Linked DNA regions of Homo sapiens. The protein of the gene in region 2 purifies or fractionates together with the protein of the main gene of each other region. This does not show direct contact. Each region holds a gene or a part of one and is shown on either strand. Other genes may lie near its edges.

Region 1 (7,869 bases), about 110 Mb from region 2:
CGGCTCACTGCAAGCTCCGCCTCCTGGGTTCACGCCATTCTCCTGCCTCAGCCTCCCGAGTAGCTGGGACTACAGGTGCCCGCCACCACGGCCGGCTAATTTTTTGTATTTTTAGTAGAGACAGGGTTTCACCATTCACAGGATGGTCTCGATCTCCTGACCTCGTGATCCGCCCCACCTTGGCCTCCCAAAGTGCTGGGATTACAGGCGTGAGCCACCATGCCCGGTCCCTAGCCCTGGTTCTATTTGTGGACCAAATCATAATGACAGTAGTAGCAATGGCTAATGTTTATGTGTTTATAGGCCAACATTCTTTTATGGGCCAAGATTCTTTTTTTTTTTTTTTTTTTGAGATGGAGTTTTGCTCTTGTTGCCCAGGCTGGAGTGCAATGGCGCCATCTCAGCTCACCACAACCTCCGCCTCCCGGGTTCAAGCGATTCTCCTGCCTCAGCCTCCCGAGTAGCTGGGATTATAGGCATGTGCCACCGCGCCTGGCTGATTTTGTATTTTTAGTAGAGACGGGGTTTCTCCATGTTGGTCAGGCTGGTCTCGAACTCCCGACCTCAGGTGACCTGCCCGCCTCTGCCTCCCAAAGTGCTGGGATTACAGGCGTGAGCCACCACACCGGGCCTTTTTTTTTTTTTTTTGTACAAGGGGAGGGAGGGTGGGGAGATATGGGCCAATATTTTATTCTAAGCTGTTTAACTTATATTAACTCATTTAATCTGGAGAACACTCTTAAAAAGTAGAAAATATTACCCCAGAAAGTGGTGGAGCTGGTATACAAAACCGCGTAGGTGCTTTGTTAAGGAATGATGCATTAGTTTCCCGGTAGGAGGTGAGTGCTTCATTCATCCATTCATTCATGTCTGCATCTGTTCAACTAGTATTTACAGAGCATCTACCATGGGCACATAGAAGGGAACACACCAGCCAAGGTTAGTCAAGTACACAGATTAACAAATAATGACAGGCTGCATTAACTGCTTGGAAGAAAATCATAAGGATGATAGGCCGGGTGCCGTGGCTCACACCTGTAATCTCAGCACTTTGGGAGGCTGAGGTGGGCGGATCACCTGAAGTCAGGAGTTCGAGACCAACCTGGCCAACATAGTGAAAACCCGTCTCTACTAAAAATACAAAAATTAGCTGGGCACGATGGATCATGCCTGTTATCCCAGCACTTTGGGAGGCCGAGGCGGGTGGATCACGAGGTCAGGAGTTCGAGACCAGCCTGGCCAGCATGGTGAAACCCTGTCTCTACTAAAAGTACAAAAAATTAGCCAGGCATGGTGGCACGCACCTGGAGTCCCAGCTACTTCGGAGGCTGAGGCAGGAAAATTGCTTGAACCTGGCAGGTGGAGGTTGCAGTGAGCCGAGATTGCGCCATTGCACTCCAGCCTGAGTGACAGAGTGAGACCTCTGTCTCAAAAAAAAAAAAAAAAAAAAAAAAAAAGGAAAAAAAGGAAAAATTAGCTGGGTGTAGTGGTGCATGCCTGTAATCCCAGCTACTCTTGCGAGGCTGAGGCAGGAGAATCGAGATGGCGCCACTGCACTCCGGCTTGGGTGACAGAGTGAGATTCCGCCTAAAAAATTAAATAAATAAATAAGGATGATGAGATGGAGGGCAGTTGGGAGGGGCTCGAGCTGAGGACCACACTAGGTAACCATGAGCAGAGAGGGGGAACTGAGCTTGAGACCCCCAGAGGATAAGAAATTAAGAAAAGCCAGGAAGGCTGGGCGCAGTGGCCCACACCCGTAATCCCAGCACTTTGGGAGGCCAGCGTGGGTGAATCTCTTGAGCCCAGGAGTTCAAGACCAGCTTGGGCAACATAGCAAGACTCCCCCCTCTATAAAAAATACTAAAACTTAGCTGGGCATGGTGGCTCGTGCTTGTAGTCCCAGCTACTTGAGAGGCTGAGGTGGAAGGATTGCTTGAGCCAGGAGGTTGAGGCTGCAGTGAGCTGTGACTGCACCTCTGCAGTCCCACCTGGGTGATAGAGTAAGACCCTGTCTCGAAAGAAAAACAAAAATAGAAAAGCTGGGAAAAGTTCCAAGCAGAGGCAAGAGCAAGTGCAAAGCCCCAGAAATGGGAAGACATTTAGAGACTAGCAGATCAATGTGGCTGGAGATGAAGGAGCTCAGGGTGGGGAGTAGGGCTGAACATGGCATGGGAGTGAGGATGGAGGATGGGGGTGAGGCTGGAGAGGTGGGGGCGGGGCAGGGGGTGTGGGGTGAGGGATGAGGGTTTGAGTGTGGGGAGGTGGGGGTGAGGGTGAAGAGGTGAGAATGGGCTCATGAGGGTCAGGGTGATCTACGGGACACTAGTCTAGAGATGCCAAGGATGCCACTGGCTGTACCTGTGGGGAGTCCAGGGAGGGGTAGAGGCTGCACACATTGGCCTGGGGAGTCATATTTAAAGGGAAGAGCATGTGGGTCTTGTCTAAAGATCAAGTGTAGATAAGGACGGGAGGAGGCTGGGTGTGATGGCTCCCGCCTGTAATCCTAGCACTTTGGGAGGCTGAGGCAGGAAGATTGCTTTAGCCCAGGAGTTCTAGATCAGCCTGGGCAACATAGCCATAGTGAGACACCAACTCTCTACAACAGCAAAACAAAACAAAACAAAAAAACATGCAGCTGGGCATGGTGGTGCACACCTGTGGTCCTAGCTACTCAGGAGGCTGAGGTGGGAGGATTGCTGGAGCCTAGGATGTCAAGGCTTCAGTGAGCCGTATTCGCACCACTGCACTCCAGCCTGGGCAACAGAGCGAGAGCCTGTCTCAGAAAAAAAAAAAAAAAAAAGAAAGAAAAAGGAAAGAACAATAAAAGTCAACTGCTGAGAGGGAGGTTTAGGAAGAAGGGGCTGGCATTATGACTGAGGTGTGAAATAGTCTTTTGGGCCAGGTGCAGTGCCTTATGCCTGTAATCCCAGCAATTTGGGAGGCCAAGGTGGGAGGATCACTTGAGCCCAGGAGTTTGAGGCTGCAGTAAGCTATGATCACACCACTGCACTCCAGCCTTGGTGACAGAGCAAGACCCTGTCTCTATTAAAAACAACAAGAAAGGGAAATAGTCCCTTGGGGGAGAGATTTAGGATTGTCAGTAGCCCTGAGGGCTCGCTTAGGGTCCGTTATCAGCCAGGGTCCAGTCAAAAGACAACACATTATAGTTTTTAACTGAGAGAATTTAATATAAAGGATTGTTAACTAGGTATAAAGATGTGTTTAGGTAACTGTCGGGGTATAATACTAACAGTAGCAACTGCAGGAAGTAGCTACCACTGGTAGGTGGTATTATTAAAATGTAGATGCTTGAGGAGGGGCACAGGGAGGTGAAACTCAGACATCTGAGGAGAGGGTGCTGCTCTGCTAGGGCTGGTGTCTCTGAGGAGAAAACGAGGCTGGTTCTGCAAATGTTGGAATAAGTGCAGACTGGATTCCACTGCTGCTTCCAGAATGTTCCAACTGCCACCTCCAGGATAAAGAAGCAAGAGTGGATGACACCAGACAGGACAGGAGCAAGCAGGAAGCAAAGCCCCCTATTGATAGAGCCAAACCGGGATCAGCTGGAAAGCAGAAGTGTTTGCAGAGGCCCAGCCTGATCATTATAGAGCCAAGAACAGCAGCTGGCTTTGGAGCTTGGTCAACCGGCTTGAGGCCTGAGTTGAAAGCTAGACCCATCAGCACAGTCTCTTCTGGTGATTGGACTTTTGCTAGGTGAGTACACTGAAGCCAGGTAAAGGGAGTGGAGAGTGTGTGTGCCACTGAGTGATTTACAATTCAGGATCCTGGAATATAATTCCGTGAGGACGCAGCGGGTGACTGGGTGCAAAGTAGCCCAGTTCAAGGGACCTGTGGGCCTGGGGATGAGGACCTTTGCTTCTCCACATGCGGTCCATGGACTCGCAGCATCAGCATCGTCTGAGAGCTTGTGAGAAATGCAGAATTTCAGGCCACTGAGACCGCTGGAATTGGAATCTGCATTTTCCAGATCTCCTGGTGGTCCTCAACTACTTACTGGTTTGGGATGGGAAACTAGAAGGCTTGGGCTGGGAAACTAGGGAGTGGTGATCAGCGAGGGGGCGGCCTGGCTACAGCAAAAAGGACAGGCACTGGGAGACAGCCCCTGGGCATGAGCTTCCAAGCTGGGGCTTTTTGAGGAAGCCATAGTGGTCTGGCATTGGGACCTCTGAACGAAATTTCCCGGTGGCTACAAGGAATTTTCCCACTTCCCCAAATTAGTAGATTCGATTTCCATCCCACTAGCTGGTAATTTACAGTATAGTGAATTTCCTTATTTCTTTTTTCTTCCCAAGACTTTCAAAAAGTAAAGCCAACCCCTTTATTTATCTTTGGGCTCGTCCAGTCTGGCTTCCCCCCTCCGATCGTTCGCAGTGGGACAGCCCGCCGGGCCTCCTTCCTTCCCCAGAAACCCTCCAGGCCTGGGAGAGGACGCGTTTTGCATTCAGGAAAAACCAATCGCTCCCCTATCGTACATAACCAAGAGAAAAGGTGGCGGACGAGGGGCGTGGCAAAGTGATTAGTGCGGCCTGGACCCTGCGTGCCTTGCGCGCTGCGGGCTCTTTGCGTCTGCGTAGTTCGCTCACCTCCCTTTCTAACTCCGCTGCCGCCATGGCTCCTGTGGTTAGTATGGCTCCGCGTGAGGCCTCGGCTCCAGGGGAGGCACGTGGGCCTCGCCGAGCCCGGCATCTACCCAGGCTCGCTGGGGACGGCGCCCTGCAGCGTCCTGCTGGGGTGGGCTGGCAGGTCGGCCGGAGCGGGCCAGAGCCCCTGCCGATCCCAGCACGTTGTAGGCGGAGGAGGCCGCGGCCCGAGGCTCGTGAGGGAGATCCGGGAGGTCTCGGAGGCCCGGGGCCCCAGCTAGGGGCTAGCGGGGAGCTGGAGCCTGGAGACTGCGGTCTGGGCCGGCCACTGGTCCTCGGACCCCGGCCGGGGGCCTGATTACCTGGGTGGAGGGCGGGGAAGAAGAACGGGACCTGCTACCCTGGGGAGCCGCGCATTCGGAAGTCCACGGCCAAGACTCGGGGACGAATCCGCGGAAGGGCGGCTTGGTCGGCGTGCTTTCGGAGAGGAGGCCTGGGTTTGAGGAGCTTTTTAGCGTCCCCAGAGGAAATTAGTTTATCAGGGCGCACTGTACAGACCCAAACGGGTGTTGCAGTGGTGTAGGGAGAAGGCTCTCATTGCATTCTCCTTTAGCTATGCTGGGACTGGGCTGTGCGGCGCCCTCCTCCTAGGTTATTTGAGAAAGTTGTTTTTCCGTGTTCTTCGTCCCAAGATCCTACTTTTCCTCTTTTGTTGGGACTCCCTGGTTAACATTTCCGGTTCTTCTGCTCTTTCTGTCTGGTTGGGCTTTTGAATGCCTTTTGGTTTAAAACCTTGATGGAGAAGTATCAAGCCCGTTGTGGGTAGGTCTCTTGATTGATTGTGTGTGTTCGGAATAGATCTTAAAGTACCCCTCTTAGATTATTACTGCGAAGAGACGTTGTAAAAAATAAATCAGTGATTTTTGTAGTGGCCAAATGTTTGAAAAGTTGATCCAGTTAACACAAGTTTTAGATGAAGTTCTTTTAAACATGAAGGGAGGTAAGATGTGTTTTTGGAAAAGTCTATTTAGTTCTGCAGAGCTTTTAAACGTGAAAGTACAGGTTGGTACGATGCACAAGTGCATTAATGGTGTCAAGTTTGTAGAGAGATAAGATTAACACAAGCTTCTTCGTAAGAGTGAAGAAACTGGAACCTTGTAGGATGTGCTTTGCCGGGTGGTTTGGAAGTACTAATGCATAGATGAAGCGAATCAAAATGTCAGAAGTTCTTGACGGTAGTGTTGTAATAAGATTCTAGGTTTTAGCCTTAACCTTGTCCAAGCTGGAGTGGACAGGCACCTAGAATACTTTGCAACTCCCTTCATGAGAAGGTGGATGAGACAGGATTAAGGGAGATGAGCTAAGACGGATCAGGACCCTACTCTGAACATGTAGGACAAGGATTGATTTCATATGAAAATTGTGGGTATGCAAGGCATTTTGTATGCCTGCACTCTAATTTTGGAAAAATAGTATTTTTTTGAAATTGGGAATGTTAGGGCAAACAAAAGGAAGTGTTCATTTTATTGTGGTTCATAAACTAAGAGACCTTCATGCCTGTAGAGATTGGGGAGACTGGAAAGTTTGAGTGAGTCAAGAGTGCTAGAATGATTTCCCCATCAAAAGGGCATGACCCCAGGCCCCAAGCTTGTACAGCAGCATCTGCCCCATTATACCTCTGGCACTCAGGCAGTGATGCCTCTTGGCCCTCTGGCAAAGGGAGCACACTTCCGTTAGTTTTGTATTTGTATGGACTTTTATACCTATGACGTTTCTGGTTCTGTTAATCTTGTTTTTCCGACTGACTGAAACTTCATCTCTGTTATCATTTGTGTATTTTCTTAGAAAAAGCTTGTGGTGAAGGGGGGCAAAAAAAAGAAGCAAGTTCTGAAGTTCACTCTTGATTGCACCCACCCTGTAGAAGATGGAATCATGGATGCTGCCAATTTTGTAAGTTACATCCTTATTGCCACTCGGGTGGTCACGAACATTTTGAGATACTGTTGAGAAAACCTACTGGGGTACATTTCTGTTTTCAGGCTTATAGGCAGCTTCACAGGTCTGGCTGTATCATCTCACCCTGGGAATGTGGGCAGATTACTTGTTTGTTTCCAAGTCTTGTTTCTTCTTGTGTGTGCAACAGTTGTGAGGAGTAAAAGGAGATGGGCTTAGAATAAGCAAGAAGGGCTCTAGCACAGAGGTGTTAGAGGACTATCTTGTTTTTCTCCTTTAGTTTCCACAAATGATTTTACTTAAAAGTTACCCAGAAACAAGCCAGGCACGGTGGCTCACGCCCGTAATCCCAACACTTTAGGAGGCTGAGGCGGGCAGATCATGAGGTCAGGAGTTCGAGACCAGTCTGGCCAACATAGTGAAACCCCGTCTCCACTAAAAATACAAAAAAATTAGCTGGGTGTGGTGGTGTGCACCTGTAATCCCAGCTACTCGGGAGGCTGCAGTAGAAGAATCGCGTGAACACGGGAGGCGGAGGTGGCAGTGAGCAGAGATCGCACCATTGCACTCCATCCTGGGAGATAGTGCGAGACTCCGTCTCAAAAACAAAACAAAAAAAGTTACTGAGAAACAGACAAATTTCACTGGGTCCATGGCATCCCCCTTGCTGTTTGGTGTGTTTAAGCATAAGTGAGGGACCCTGATCCTGACTATGGGCTGCCTCTGTCCTGGGTCTCACTGCTTTGATGTGGAGCTTTGGACAGGTGGCAGCAGTTCCCGAAGCTTTTCTATATTATGAAGCATCTGAGCTTCAGTGTTTAAAGTACCCTGCTTGCTGAATTGTAATTGGAGCTTTTTTTTTTTTCTTCAGATCTTGCTCTGTGCTGATTTTTTGCCCCTGTATTTGGCCCATTCCCCAATATTCCTCTATCCTATTGCAATCTAGAAATATTAAATAATCCTTCCGCCACATTTTGACTCAGCAGTTTGGTTTTGACATTTTATTCTTTTTCCTCTAATAGCCATGTTTGGGGGATTCAGACTTCGTATTTGTGTGTAGAAGTCTCCTAAATTTGCATTTGCTCTAAATTCTCCAGAAGGTTGAACTATTGCCAGGATCAGTATCATTACAACAAAAATAATTTTTAAACACAAAATAATTATGGTCACGAATTATCCAGAATGGAATTTAGGTAACCTCTTATAGTTTATTGCCTTTATGTAGATGCTGTTTGCATCTGTGTCCTTCAAGAAATCCCCTATTTCCTTAGTTCTTTCTCTATCCAGTGACTTCTGGCTTTTCTGTGGCCTC
Region 2 (7,822 bases):
CGCCAGGACTTTGCTCTGAGGGGCTGTCAGGTGGGCTGTGGACTTGGCTTATTTGGAGAGCTGGCCCATTTGGAGAGCATCTGCTGAGGCCCCGTGCTGGAAGGCGGTGGGCCGGGAGCCCTGCTGGAGACAGAAGCCACTGCTCTGGGCAGTGCATCACACTCACAGGGTGGAGGGTGAGAGACACAGCCAGGAGGCTCCGACCCACCCATCCCCTCACAGGCCCCAGCTGAATTAATGGGATTCCCTTGACCCCTCCTTGCAGCCTCGCTGAACAGAAAAGCAAAACCCAGCAACCACAAGATAGTTTTGAGTTGAAAATGGTTCTGAGAACTTCTGATGATTGCTTTTTAATTTTTAAATTTAGATCAGGGTAATGCTTTTCTGTTGGAATCCAGGGGCCTAGAGATGTTTCTTTATCAGTGGAGGAGGGGGGATGAAGTGAGTTTGAACCCCAGTGGGTCTGTGTGTATAAACTGAGTCTTACAGCCATGTGGAGGGAGCCTCAGAAAGCCCAGGCACTCCAGAAAAGGCATGCACAGGGGTGGGAGCTGAGCTAGGCACACACCAGGGAGTGTGTGTGTGTGTGTGTGTGTGTGTGTGTGTGTGTGTATGTGAGAGAGAGAGAGAGAGAGATCAGGGAGAGGGTTGCAATGAATCTCTGGATGGGGTAGGAATAAAGAAACACTTGCCCCTCTCTGGAGAATGCCATGGACAGGGGGCAAGGACGGAGTTGGAGCCACATTGACTTGGAGATTGCCAGGTGAGACCTTCAGGGCAAGCAGACTAGACTTCTGCAGGAAGAGCTCTCGTGACACACAAACCTCCACGGAAGTCCGCCTCCTCAGGAAGGCTGCACCCTGTCCCAGGCAGCCAGAAGCTCTTCTCCGTGGTTACTCAGCCCCACGTGTTCCAGCATGAGAACATACTCACTGTCATGGGGTTCATGCTCCAGGTACCAGCTAAGGTCTATCTTCATATTCCCAGGGCTTAGCAGACACAGGCACTCAAATATGGAATGACGAGTGAACAACTGAGTAACTGAATGGTCAGAATTTTCAAAATGCAGATTTGCTGTTAGGAGTCTTAGGTTTACTTCCATTATGCAAAGTTGGTCTCACCGGATTTCCCCTGATAGTGTTCCCCAGCCTCACATGACTGTACATTATCTAGGACGATATTAAGTACCAACTGAATGCGGGCACTGTTGGGGATATAACTCAGAAAGTTTTACCATGATTCTGCTCTTAAGCAGGTTAGCTGACTGACTTCCATATTCAATTCTGTTCAAGTCTTGAAGCAGAGCTCCAAGGGGAGCCAAATGGGTGGGTAGACAGAATTTCCAGTGGATAGTTTAGGAGCTCCCTTGTCTTGGTGTGAAGTGAGGATCCCTGAGCCACCTGGAGAGTGTTGGAACACAGTGTGGTCATCCAGGAATCAAAGGGAGCCCCATCCTGGTGCTCTGGCTACTGCAAATAATCCTTGTAAGCCGATCTGCTTAGCAGAGTACTAGAAAGGAAAATCCAAAGGGCAAGATAAAAATATATCTGTGGTATTTAACATGGTGGTGGTTGGAGATGTCAGCACGTACGCTGTTACACAGAGTCCGCATGTTACCGGGAAGCCCAACTTGGAGGTTTGTAAATCATATCAGAGTTCCAGCTCTCCTGTTTATTAAATGCATACTGTTGTGCAGGTCATAGATTTTTGAGCCTCAGTTTTCTTACCTCGAATGATTGTGAGGGTTAAATGAGAATCAGGTATGTGCAAACCCTTGCTGTATCATTGCAAGGTGTTCTTCAAAGTGGCAAGTGTTCTGCACCATAGACCAAGGGCATATTCTTTTGCTGTCTATACTCATTTCCAATTATAAGTACCCTCCCACATCCTCTCTCCCACTTGTTGATGGTACCTGTTCTTTGTTCCCCTGCTGCTCTCTGAGGACCAAGCAGGGGATAGTTGGAGACCTAGAATATCGGAACATAGATAGTCACCTTCATACCCCTCTGCCAAAGGCCAGAGATAGCACTCCAAGGGGCAGGGGGACCCAGAAAGATCAAGTGGTCTCAGCGGAGGCTCTCTTTTTTTTGTTGTTTTTTTTGTTTTTTTTTTTGAGACTGAATTTCACTCTTGTTGCCCAGGCTGGAGTGCAGTGGTGCAGTCTCGGCTCACTGCAACCTCCGCCTCCTGGGTTCAAGTGATTCTCCCGTTTCAGCCTCCCGAGTAGCTGGGATTACAGGTGCATGCCACTACACCCCGGTAATTTTTGTATTTTTAGTAGAGACGGGGTTTCATCATATTGGTTAGGCTGGTCTCAAACTCCTGACCTCAGGTGATCTGCCCACCTCAGCCTCCCAAAGTGCTGGGATTACAGGCGTGAGCCACCGCGCGTGGCCAAGGCCCTCTTAAGTACGCTCTGCCCTGGATGGCTGCAGTTGTTCTGGTCTGTATAAAACCTAAGTTCCAGGATTCCTTATACCCAGGGATACCAAGGCCTAGGGGACAAAACCCTGAATGAGGACCTGAGAAACCTGAATCTATACTTTGTTCTTTCACTCATTAGCTCTGCAACCATTAGTAAGTCTCTTGCCCTTTTGGGGGCATCCTCAGTTTCTTCTTTTGTAAACCGAGGAAAAATAGAAAAAGTTCTTGTGTGCCTAAAGCTAAATGTAAGTTATGAGTTACAACTTCTTCCTCTTTCAACAAAGGGCTAGATGGGATGTGGCTAATCACAGGTCCAGGAGAGGGCACAGAAGTCACCTGGCCATGGGGCTTAGTTTCAGCTTTAAGTTCTCATCCTGGAGACCAGAAGTGTGGTGGAACCCAGTGGACTTCTGTATGAGATTATCTTTGATGTTGTGTTCCTTTACCTGACTCCAAAAGAGGATTTTTCGTTTAGGACCTGCTTCTTCAGTGAAAAAGCTTTGCATTAATTTTGTTCTTTTTTTCTCAGTATCCAGCGAGCAGCATTGGTGGTCCTAGAAAATTACTACAAAGATTTCACCATCTATAACCCAAACCTCCTAACAGCCTCCAAATTCCGAGCAGCCAAGCATATGGCCGGGCTGAAAGTCTACAATGTAGATGGTATGTGCCTTGAAAGGGTGTCCGTGGTGCTCACAGGGGCACAGTTGGGTGACTATTTAAGATTCATGGTACGTTTGGTTCGACTTCTTCTCTGGGCCTACCTTTATGGTACATTCTTGTTTCAGAACAATTTCTCTTTTTTATGTAGGCAGACACATGTTTAGAGGAATGTTGATTTACCATCTACCTGTGTTGGAAGCCTGTTCATTTTGGGATTTTATGATTGAAAACAGCAGCGGTGTGTGTTTCCTGCCTTCTGCCAGGATCATCTTATATTGGAAGCTGTTAGGAAAGGGTTGCTTTTCAAAATTGGTGCACATTACCCACAAACTCAGAAAGCTACCTAAATCATTAAGACTAGAAATCTCAGTAGTCCAGGCATCTGGTGAGATACCTGCGGGCACTTCTTACTCGTGGCTAGGAGCCGGAGTTGAGTGGGTGGCAGGAGGCTGGAGGCCAGGCTGGGTAAGTCCAAGCTATGTTTCAGGGTATCACATGGTTAAGTGCAAGAAACAGGATGCGGTGTCATTTCTTCCTGGGTATGTTGGGTGAGGGCAAGAACTTTGCAAACCCTAGGAGAGGATTATATTTTCAACAAGTCAAGTGATTTATATACAGTGTCAGTTTTTGTTGGCAATATCCTTTCAGTTATTTGTTTGTTCATTTTTTTTTGGCTATATGAGGTGTGAGCTCCCTCACGAAGCCTGAAGGATTGATAAATTTCACCTGTGATCTAAAAACTTAGGAAAGATTCCCACTAGTGAAACCAAGTCACCAGCCAAGTAGATCATCCGTAAGAAAGCCTGAAATCTGCCTATGTTTCTGAAAAGTTAAGGTGGTCAGTGGTCAGGGGACAGGACAGGACTTCTGAGTCTGTATTCATTAACGGGTCACGTTGCACACCCTCAAGCATTGGTATTTCCTAGAAAAGTTGTGGCTGCCATGACATTCTAGCATAGCTTGCTTTCCATTGTAGACTCAGTGTCTCATGTCCTTTGACTTTCTTTTTTGTCTGTCTGTCTGTCTGTCCTTGGTCTCCCCATCCCTCTCATTCTGTCTCATTGTCTTGCTGAAATTTGATGTCCCAGCCGCCCTTATGGCCAAACTGAAACTTTATGTAACAGATGGTAACATCTTCAGCACACTCTATGTGTTGTTTTTGGCCAACATTTTAATTGCCACCGTTCTTCATGCCCTTCTGAGTTCTTTTTCCATTTCCACTGACCAGATTGGGGTTTAGGGAGATTCCTCTGCTCCCTTGCTTTGGACATAGTGAATGTGGAGCCGGGGCACAGTTCACCCTCCTGGGAAGTGACCTTTAGGATTTGTGTGTGTGTGTTCCATAGGGGGTGGGTAGACAACACTGACAGATTGGGTACTAGTTTTCTGCTCTGTTTCCCACCCTCGTGGTATTAACACTATTCTTTCACTGTCCTTTCCCCAAAGGCCCCAGTAACAATGCCACTGGCCAGTCCCGGGCCATGATTGCTGCAGCTGCTCGGCGCAGGGACTCAAGCCACAACGAGTTGTATTATGAAGAGGCCGAACATGAACGGCGAGTAAAGAAGCGGAAAGCAAGGTATACTGCCCTCCTGATGCCAGTACCCTCTTACAGACTTTTAAATTTTTATTTTATTTATTTATTTATTTATTTATTTAGAGACAGAATCTCACTCTGTTGCCCAGGCTGGAGTGCAGTGGCAAGATCTTGGCTCACTGTCACCTCTGCCTCCCAGGTTCCAGTGATTCTCATGCCTCAGCCTCCCAAATAGCTGCGATCACAGGCGCCCACCACCACGCCCGGCTAATATTTGGTATTTTTAGTAGAGATGGGGTTTCGCTATGTTGGCCAGACTGGTCTCAAACTCCTGACCTCGAGTGATGTGCCTGTCTCAGCCTCCCAAAGTACTGTGATTACAGGCATGAGCCACCATGCCCGGCCTCTTGTAGACTTTCAATCTTTCCTTTCTTACCACTAGAATGAGGTTTCTGTTTAAAAACATGACCTGCTGGGACACCTTTGGAGTGCACCTTGCTCCAGTGTTTCTCAAACTGAAGCCTGTATGAATATCACTGGGAGGGCTGTTCAAATACAGGCAGCAGGTTCTGGGCCCTGCTTGCAGAGACCCTACCCAATAGGTGTGGAGTTGGGCCCAAGAAATGGCATTTCTAACAGATTCCTGCGTGATGCTGATGCTCCTGGCCCCCAGCCCATACTTGAGTGGGTCTGTTCTGCACCCCTGGACCCTTGCTGGTGTTCACCGTCAGGTCATATTCACTGAAGGGGACAGAGGTGCATTCCATCATGTGTGCTGTGCCTCTTCCTGTTTCCCAGGGGCTGCTGGTGTGGGTGGCTGGACCAGGGAGCACGCAGCTCTGCTTCTTTGTAGGGCTGCTTCTGCACCACCAGCCACCTCTCTCTGTACAGAGCCTTTTATAGCCAGTCGGAGGGGCCTCAGAACTCTTTTCATCTAACCATTGCAGAGATGAAAAAAGGACTAGTGCATTTCCCAAGCTCATTGGTGGCAGAATTCAGAACAGAGTTCATCTCCCAGTCCTGGGGCTCCTTTCCCCCAACCCCTGGGGCCCCTGTTCCACATGTTATTTTTGCTGTTGCCTTTCTTTCTCCCTTCCTCCCTCTCCACTCTCTGAGGGACAGCTAAGGATGCAAGCAGCGTGATTGGGCCTTGGGTATGTTGGCAGGTTGGGCCGCAGCAGGGTAGACAAGCGTCATTCTGTTCTCACACCCTGTGGCAGGCACCATCCTGATTACTTAGTGTTGCATCACCTTCTAGGCTGGTGGTTGCAGTGGAAGAGGCCTTCATCCACATTCAGCGTCTCCAGGCTGAGGAGCAGCAGAAAGCCCCAGGGGAGGTGATGGACCCTAGGGAGGCCGCCCAGGCCATTTTCCCCTCCATGGCCAGGGCTCTCCAGAAGTACCTGCGCATCACCCGGCAGCAGAACTACCACAGCATGGAGAGCATCCTGCAGCACCTGGCCTTCTGCATCACCAACGGCATGACCCCCAAGGTGCGCTGCTCCGGGCGGGCTCTGCCACCGTCATCCTGGCTTGTCACTGAGCTTGGCCAGTTGAATTATAGCGTGTTACTAGAAGTGATAAAATCGAAAGGCATCTCTAAAACTCAAGTAATAAGAATTAGTGATTCTCACTTATTTTATGTTATGTTAGTACAATTGTTTTTTTAAATGTGCCTTTCGAAGGCCTCTGGATTCTAACAGAGGAGAGAATTTCGCTTGGAGGACAGTATGGAATAGTGATTGGAGACAGTATGGAATAGTGATTAGGGGTGCATTGTGGACTCTGGAGCTGAACTGATTCATTCTAACCTGGCTCCTCCACCAACTAGATGCATAACCTTGGGCAGATGGCAATAGCTCTGTGCCTCAGTTTCCTAACCTGTTAATTGGTTAGGATAATACTAATAACTATCTCATTTGTATGTTTTGGGAACTGAAAGAGCAGGATACACATATAGTGCAACATATAAACAGAGGTCCTTATAAAAAACAGCTACCAAATGTTACACGTGTACCACATGCCAAGCTCATCTACTCTCTACCATGCGATTTACATGCCTTGTTGCCATATTCAATGTAATTCTTACACAACAACCCTGTCAGAGAGATATTATTATTATCCTCATTGATACAACAGCAAACAAGTGTAGAGGAACTGAAACAGTTAATTCATGTGAAGTGCTTGAAACAGTACCTGTCATATGATGAGGATGGACTAAATAGCTCTATTTATTGGTAAAAAATAGAATGGCGTGAACCCAGGAGGCAGAGCTTGCAGTGAGCCAAGATCGCACCACTGCACTCCAGCCTGGGCGACAGAGCGAGACTCCGTCCAAAAAAAAAAAAAAAAAAAATGCCATCAGGCATTTTGGGTGTTACAGAATTAGTTTTACTGAGTGGTCTTTTAGATTATGATATTTAGGACACTTTAAGAAGTGTTACAAGAAACAGCCATGTATCTAATAGAGAGTTGTGGCCAAGGAGGCAAACTAGAGTAAAGATACAGCAAATGACTTCTCTACAGAGAAGTGGGTTCAAATCCTGGCTCCACCACTTAATTGTTTTGTGACTGTGCACAAATTACTCTACCCTCTATTAGATATATGGCTGTTTCTTGTAATATCCCTAAAAGTGTGCTAAATACTGTAATCTAAAAGACCGTTTGGTAAAACTGACTCTGTAACACCCAAAATGCCTGACAAAGCCATAGCATTATTTTTACCAATAATAATAATAGCAATTTAGTCTGGCCTCTTCATATGACAGGTACTGTTTTAAGCACATCACGTGAATTAACTCTTTCAGTTCCTCTACACTTGTTTACTGTTGTATCAATGAGGATAATAATAATATCTCTCTGACAGGGTTGTTGTGTAAGAATTACATTGAATATGGCAACAAGGCATGTAAATCGCATGGTAGAGAGTAGATGAGCTTGGCATGTGGTACATGTGTAACATTTGGTAGCTGTTTTTTTATAAGGACTTCTGTTTATATGTTGCACTATATGTGTATCCTGCTGGTTACATTGTCAACCAATAACTACCCTTAGGAAAGCAATGTAGAAATAGTAAGAAACCAAAAAGTTTTCTGTATTGATTCACTAATCTCTCTCCTAGGAAAACTATTTCCTACAATCATATATACACATGAATATACACAAAGGTGGTGTTTTGCAAAACAATCTGTAATCCTC

What was found. The genes of interacting proteins can lie anywhere in the genome.
Region 1: the proteins of VANGL1 (region 2) and RPL22 purify together in Homo sapiens (affinity purification with mass spectrometry; 2 studies listed by BioGRID and IntAct, with this or other methods). This does not show direct contact.

What each region holds. Positions count from the first base shown.
Region 1 is NC_000001.11:6,196,337-6,204,205, reverse strand, and holds the start of RPL22 (large ribosomal subunit protein eL22), read left to right. Parts: upstream 1-4,610; 5' UTR 4,611-4,632; coding exon 4,633-4,644; intron 4,645-6,449; coding exon 6,450-6,554; intron 6,555-7,869.
Region 2 is NC_000001.11:115,679,411-115,687,232, forward strand, and holds part of VANGL1 (vang-like protein 1), read left to right. Parts: intron 1-2,953; coding exon 2,954-3,087; intron 3,088-4,533; coding exon 4,534-4,666; intron 4,667-5,882; coding exon 5,883-6,117; intron 6,118-7,822.